Homo sapiens: one gene and its partner. The protein of the gene in region 1 interacts with the protein of each later gene in a biochemical or structural test. Each region holds a gene or a part of one and is shown in the gene's direction. Other genes may lie near its edges. The genes, in order: DTD1 and CDC7.

What was found.
Region 2: of the proteins of DTD1 (region 1) and CDC7, one has a biochemical effect on the other in vitro, tested with the Homo sapiens proteins (one study listed by BioGRID).

The regions. Positions count from the first base shown.
Region 1 is NC_000020.11:18,741,487-18,745,307, forward strand, and holds part of DTD1 (D-aminoacyl-tRNA deacylase 1), read left to right. Parts: intron 1-2,613; coding exon 2,614-2,766; 3' UTR 2,767-2,785; intron 2,786-3,821. UniProt on the Homo sapiens protein: Possible ATPase involved in DNA replication, may facilitate loading of CDC45 onto pre-replication complexes. An aminoacyl-tRNA editing enzyme that deacylates mischarged D-aminoacyl-tRNAs.
Region 2 is NC_000001.11:91,521,195-91,525,015, forward strand, and holds part of CDC7 (cell division cycle 7-related protein kinase), read left to right. Parts: intron 1-2,846; coding exon 2,847-3,241; 3' UTR 3,242-3,821. UniProt on the Homo sapiens protein: Kinase involved in initiation of DNA replication. Phosphorylates critical substrates that regulate the G1/S phase transition and initiation of DNA replication, such as MCM proteins and CLASPIN.

The DNA.
Region 1 (3,821 bases):
GGTTACAGTTGAAGCCTGTATATATTCATTCCACTAAGATCCCATTATCCTCTTTCCCCTCCATGTTAACTAGTGTATTGAAGTTGGCGTGTATTCTTCCAGGCCATACTGTATTTGCATGAGCTCACTAGCTATGTAGAGTATTATTTTGTGTTAGTGGAATCCTACTGTATATAGCCTTCTGAAGCTAAATTTGTTTTGTATAACATGATTTTCAAGATTTATCTATTTTTTTTAATTAAAAAAAATTTTTTTTGAGACAGTCTTCCTCTGTCACCCAGGCTGGAGTGCAGTGACATGATCTCAACTTACTGTAACCTCTGCTTGCTGGGCTCAAGCGATCCTCCCGTCTCAGCCTCCCCAGTAGCTGGGACTACAGGCATGTGCCACCACGCCTGGCTAACCTTTGTATTTTTTTTTTTTTTTTTTTTTTGTAGAGACAGGGTCTCTCTATGTTGCCCAGGCTGGTCTCAAACTCCTGAGCCCAAGCAGTCGCCCACCTTGGTCTCCTAAAGTGCCGCTATTGCAGGCATGAGCCACCACCTCTGACCAAGACTTGGCTATTTTGATATATGTAGATCTACTGTACAATATTGCTTTAGGGGACCAGACCACATTACACGTATCTGTCCTCCTAATGTTGATGGACATTTGGGTTGTTTCTAGGTTTTTGCAAATACAAATGACACTACAGTCCATGTTCTCAGAAGCCCCCACTGTGCACACAAGTGGAAATTTATCCAGGGGAGTTTTCGGAGGAGAGTTGCTGAGTCAAAGGTGAAGTGATGTCTTCATTCACAAAATCTAATTAGTATATTAACCAAACTTAGCTGTATTCTACAGCTTTTCAGGTAAATGGGGAGTAGGAAAGAATAAGCCAGGGGTCCTCAACCCCCAGGCCAGGGACCGGTACTAATCCCTGTGGCCTGTTAGGAACTAGTCTGCACAGCAGGAGGTGAGCAGCCTATGAACGAGCATTATCACCTGAGCTCCGCCTCCTGTCAGATCAGCAGTGGCCTTAGATTCTCATAGGAGCGGGAACCCCATTGTGAACTGTGCATGCGGGGGATCTAGGTTGCAGGCTTCTTATGAGAATCTCACCAATGTCTGATGCTCTGAGATGGAACAGTTTCATCCTGAAACCATCCCCTCTTCTGTCCCCCATCTCACAGAAAAATTGTCTTCTATAAAACCGGTCCCTGGTGCCAAAAATGTTGGGGACCACTACTATAAGTCAATTATTAATAAATTTGATTTCCTGGACCCAATTGAGAGCTACTGGTTGGTTGTTCATCTCTCGAAGGGTTAACTCAAAGTCTGTTCATAGTGGAAGAAATGATCTGGCAGATTGGGGGAAGTGAATCCTCTTTGTGTCTTGGATGTGGGGCAGGGACCAGCAGGGAGAAGCCAGCCCTTCAATAAGTTTCCTTCTTTTTATGTAAACTAGAAAAAGTTCACAGACTTAGTCTGGGAGGGAGATAAAACTGGGTATTGCTGTCTCTTGTGTTTTTTGGTCTAAGAAAATTCCGTGGTTCAAAACTTGGCCGGTCTTCTCTGCTGGGTTTCTCAGCAGGCTTTCCTGTAGTGGCTGGGCTGCTGCTCAGTGTTAGATGATGGAAGCTTCTTTCAGCCATCTAGCTGATGCTTTCTTTGAAGAACTATTCAGGGAAGAAGTGGGCCCAGGTTCCATTCGAGTGAGACATCAGGGGCATGTCCCCTGCTGGCCTGGTGGGAGCCTAAGAAGGCTCTAGTGGCCAGTGTCCTGAGTGTTGCCACCACGCAGCCTGCAAGCAAGTCAGCCTTCAGTCTCAAATCAACTGGTAACTGAGACGGTGTTCAGTGTGCTTAATGCACTTTGTTTCACAGCCTTCTCTGTAATCTTCAGCAAAGAGTAATGTGTTTTGAACATTCTTTAGAAAACACGTGGTGTGGCATGGTGGCTCACACCTGTAATCACAACACTTTGGGAGGCCGAGGTGGGTGGGTTGCTTGAGCCCAGGAGTTCAAGAACAGCTTGGGCAACATGGTGAAACTCTGTTTCTACAGAAAAATTGGCATGCACCTGTAGTCACAGATACTTGAGAGGTTGAGGTGGGAGGATCACTTGAACCCAGGAGGTTGAGGCTGCAGTGAACTGTGACCGCACCACTGTACTTCAGCCTGGGCAACAGAGTGAGACCCTGTCTCAAAAAAAAAAAAAAAAAAAAGAAAAGAAAAGAAAAAAGAAAACAACAAGTAGAAGGTAACTTGATGAGAAAAAAAACTATCAAAGAAAAAAGTAAGAGATGAAAAGCCTTCATATATGGAGCTCTTCTAAGGCTGTTGAAGAAGGCTGTGGCATGACCGCTCCCTCATACTGTGTGCCAAGTTGAATTATGGTTGGGGAAAAGTCTGAGAGTGATTACTCCTATGACTAATGATTTGTTTCAGTGATTCAGGTGCCTGTTGGAAAAACATTCTGTGTATAATTTGGTATATCTGAACCACTGTGCTCTGCCAGGTTATCAGAAAAAAACTTTTCAATGGTTCCCACCTGGGAAGTCACTGGTGTGTGGGATACACAGGCATGTGTTTGTGTTTGTAAAATATTCTTTTTTATTTTTATTTAATCAGCTGTCAAAGCTCGAAAAACAGCAGCAGAGGAAAGAAAAGACCAGAGCTAAGGGACCTTCTGAATCAAGCAAGGAAAGAAACACTCCCCGAAAAGAAGACCGCAGTGCCAGCAGCGGGGCTGAGGGCGACGTGTCCTCTGAACGGGAGCCGTAGCTCAGGAGGCAGAATTCAGGTAGGAGTTTCCCTGCTTGGCTTCATCTTCCCACATTTTGGGGAAGCAGCAATGAATAGGAGGGAATAGCTGCTGAGGCTGAATTCATTCATTTCACAGCGTTCATCCATAGCTTCCTTAAATCTGCTGCCTTCCAGGATGGAGACAAAAGTTAGTGTGTTAGTCCGTTTTCACGCTGCTGATAAAGACATACCTGAGACTGAGTAATTTATAAAGATAAAGAAGTTTAATGGACTCGCAGTTCCACGTGGCTGGGGAGGCCTCACAATCATGGTTGAAGGCAAAAGGCATTTCTTACATGGCGGCAGGCAAGAGAGTATAAGGGTCAAGCACTCCAGCCTGGTGACAGAGCAAGACTCCATCTCAAAAAAAAAAAACAAAAAACAAGTGAAAGGGGTTTCCCCTTATAAAACCATCAGCTCTTGTGAGACTTGTTCACTACCAAGAGAACAGTATGGGGGAAACTGCCCCCATGATTCAGTTACCTCCCACCAGGCCCCTCATCTTGAATTGTAGTTCCCATAATTTCCACGTGTGTGTTCCTACGTGGGAATTATGGGAGCTACAATTCAAGATGAGATTTGGGTGGGGACACAGCCAAACCATATCAGTTAGCAAATAAGATTGTATTTTATTCATTGAGATGCAGGAGGGTGGCATACCACAGGCCTGGGGTGCCCACCTGGGGGTGGAACCTGTTTGTGCCACCTTCTCTGGCTGCCTGTGCCAGTCCACAGCTGCTGCTGTGATTGCCTGTGCAGAACACTCACTCACCGATACAGAATCCAGATGCAGATGCAGAGTCCACTTGCGCTCCTGCATCTCCCTTCCTGCTCTTAGCCACTCTAGCAAAGGGCACTGCCATCTCAGCAGCCTACTTTCATTGCCACCTGCCCCGTGTTCTGAAATCCTTCACAGTGCCCCGTGTGGCACTGTGAGTTTACTTTTCCTAAAATGGCATTTTATTCTTATTGTGGCTCACTGTAGCACGGAGTCCACCTCCCTGCCTGAACATCAGAGGCCTTGAAAATGTGAT
Region 2 (3,821 bases), on another chromosome or scaffold:
AATCTTTAAGAAATACATATGCCTGCCCACTCAGCCTATTCTTGGAAAATATGATTCAGAAAAACAAGATACTTAGGAAGGCTCCAGCCTTGTTAGTTTGAAAAAGCAAGTGATTCTGACTAAGAAACTATGGGTGTTTAAGAACCACTGCAAAAATTACTGCCCTTGCTTATGCACTAGTGCTATAGTCTAATCTACAAGAAAAACTTAGTGGTGGTTGTGAAGAAAGCCTCATCTTAATAGAGGCTTGCCAAAATATGTTTCTACAGTAAAGTCAGTCCACGATTTGTAACTATCTTGTACTTATTGTAAGAAAATTTTATTTGAAGATAATAGGATGAAATAATACAAGGGAAAAAAAGTGACCATGAGTGGAAAGCAAGATTGATATCTTAGAAATGGCATTCTTACATAATAATATAACAAGTATGTTTATTCTCAACTGAGAAAACTTTCATCTACTATTGAATAACTTCGTGAGAGGTTTATGAACATGAAGTTTATCAGCCAATACCAACATATTTTATTGAAGAGCTTGAATCTCCCCCATTGTAATCCAAGTTATAATCAGGGCCAACAATGGAAATACAACATCTGACCCAAAAATACTCTAGATCAAGTGCCATGATAGCAAGCAAGAGCTTTTAGAGATTTATCATTGTAATACTTCTCATATTAAAAAAAAAATAGGGCCAGCCGTGGTGACTCACACCTGTAATCCCAGCACTTTGAGAGGCTTAGGTGGGCAGATCATGAGGTCAGGAGACCGAGACCATCCTGGCCAACGTGGTGAAACCCCATCTCTATTAAAAACACAAAAATTAGTTGGGCATGGTAGCATGCACTTGTAGTCCCAGCTACTCGGGAGGCTGAGGCAGGAGAACCAGCTGAACCTGGGAGATGGAGGTTGCAGTGAGCCAAGATTGCACCACTGCACTCCAGCCTGACGACAGAGCAAGACTCTGTCTCAAAAAAACAAATAATAAAAATAATGCCATAGGACTTGTCTCAGTTGTATTAGTATGACATCTGTAGTTATTTTAGTCTTGATCTTACTATAACTTTGGACTGAGTATAAAAGCCTCAAAATTTCAACAAACACAACTGTGTTCCCCTTTGTAACCTAAAGAAATGACTTGGCTGAGATTAGCAGTGAGAGCACCTTTACTTCTCTTATCTGTCCTCAACCCTTAAACCTGGCTCCATTGTGGGTTGTCATTAAGTACTCAGTGAATTGTGTTGAATAAATTAAAAAGAAAAGTCTTGAGCTGAAACAAATTCCTGACACATAGTAGTCTGTAATAAAATATGTTGACTGATAGTGTTACTTGAAGTTATTTTTCCTGAATATTGTAAATGAACCCTCTTTTTGGTCATATAAAAAAAAGCATATTGTATAACTTGGGGACATGCTATAACATATACTATTAGTTATTTTATGACTTCAGAACAAGCTAATAAAGGAATAAAACTATATGAATATTCCCCCCTGGCTATAATTTTCTAGAGAGAATAGGAATGATAGAATCAGTTTAAAAGTAAAAAAGCATTGGCATATTGTACTCTCAAAGAATTTGGTCTTCAGTAATTGTTTGTTTCCTCCCTTTCCCTCCCCCATTTTTTTCCCTGGCTTAGTACACCAGTCCAGTAGTTAGTTCAGAATATGTAAAGGTAACTTTTTATCATCCACAGTCAGATTAATGACTTTGTTGACAATCTACATTCTCAGAAAGGCATCTAAATGTTGTGGTACTTGTTGTTTCGTACATTTAGTATATTTCTGTTTAATAAGGAAATGTAAGGCAAAAATAATACATGATTGCCATTTGTGTGATTAACTTTTTTTTGCACATCTGATAATAAACCCATCAGGAAGTTATTTCAAATACATTTATATTTTTAAAAACAGATCTAGTTTGTTTATTTGTTCATTCAGAAACATTTATTGGGGCTTTATGTGTGCCAAGTACTATTGCGAGTCTCTGCTTTCACAGAGCTTAAATTCTAGTGAGGGAGAGAACATAAATAAATACTATGAGAAATGAGTGGTACTGAGATAAAAGGAAAAGGGGAGGGAAGAGGCTTATTTAGGATAGGTTGGTCAAGAACAGCATCTCTAAGGATGTATGTGTCATTTGAACAGTTGTTGAAAAGAATAATGCCTTTTTGTCTAGTCCAACAGACATTAACTGACTACCTAATCTGTACCAGGCATAGGCTGGGTTTGGGGGGTTCAAAGATAAATAAGACAGTTCCTGCCTTCAAAGAGCTCAGTCTACTAGGTGGGACAGACATATATAGGATAGCAAAAGTAATAGTAGAACTCTCAAGATACAGTAGAAACTGAAATTGATCAGTTCTCTCTGAGGGTGTCAAGCCTCAGAGGTGATTCTTGATCTGAGTGGTGATGTCAGTGAGAGTGTCCTGGGCACACAAGGGGTGCAGGGCATCCTAGGCAAAGACAGGAGTCATGTAGTCAAAGACATAGAAGCATGGAAAGGAAGTAGAGTGGGGGCGTGGGAGCTGCAGCTAGTTAAAGATTATAGAAGGGTAAGATGAAGCTTGAGAAATTGGCAGAGTCAAGTGAGTGCCTGGCATAGCTTAGTAAGTCACTGCTTTGTACTTACTATCTCCCACTTTATCTCCCACTATGCAATTCAAATACAACTTAAATATAGCATGTGGTGCTCTATCTCATACTGTGTGTGTGTGTGTGTGTGTGTGTGTGTGTCCATGTCTATAAAGCATATGTTTGAACTTTCATGTTTCTCATGAGAGAGGCTTCTGATATATTCAAATAATAAAATGTTTTTTTCTGTTTTTGTTTTTTCTTCTTTTGCTTTTAGGGAAATCAATATTATGTAGCAAAGAAGTTCCAGCACAAGACTTGAGAAAACTCTGTGAGAGACTCAGGGGTATGGATTCTAGCACTCCCAAGTTAACAAGTGATATACAAGGGCATGCTTCTCATCAACCAGCTATTTCAGAGAAGACTGACCATAAAGCTTCTTGCCTCGTTCAAACACCTCCAGGACAATACTCAGGGAATTCATTTAAAAAGGGGGATAGTAATAGCTGTGAGCATTGTTTTGATGAGTATAATACCAATTTAGAAGGCTGGAATGAGGTACCTGATGAAGCTTATGACCTGCTTGATAAACTTCTAGATCTAAATCCAGCTTCAAGAATAACAGCAGAAGAAGCTTTGTTGCATCCATTTTTTAAAGATATGAGCTTGTGATAATGGATCTTCATTTAATGTTTACTGTTATGAGGTAGAATAAAAAAGAATACTTTGTAATAGCCACAAGTTCTTGTTTAGAGACCAGAGCAGGATTAATAATTTATTTTAACATTTTAGTGTTTGGTGGCACATTCTAAAATATAGATTAAGAATACTTAAAATGCCTGGGATAGTTCTTGGGACTAACAACATGATCTTCTTTGAGTTAAACCTACCTAAGTAGATTTTAGGTGGGTTCCTATTAGGTCAGATTTTTAGCTTCCCTAATTACCTTTCACTGACATATACAGAAAAAGGAGCAGTTTTAGTTTTAATTAATTAAAATTAACAGATGTGATGAGGATTAAATGAATCAAAAGACTTAATTTGTAGATTCTTTTAGAGTTATGAGCTAGGTATAGTTTGGGGAAACTCAACCTGGTGCTGGTGCTCTTAACAATTTTGTAAATAAAGAAGATAATTTCCTTTTCTAGAGGTACATATTAGGCCTTTTATGAACACTAAAACAATGAGGAAATGTTGGTCATGGGGCAAAGTATCACTTAAAATTGAATTCATCCATTTTTAAAAAACACTT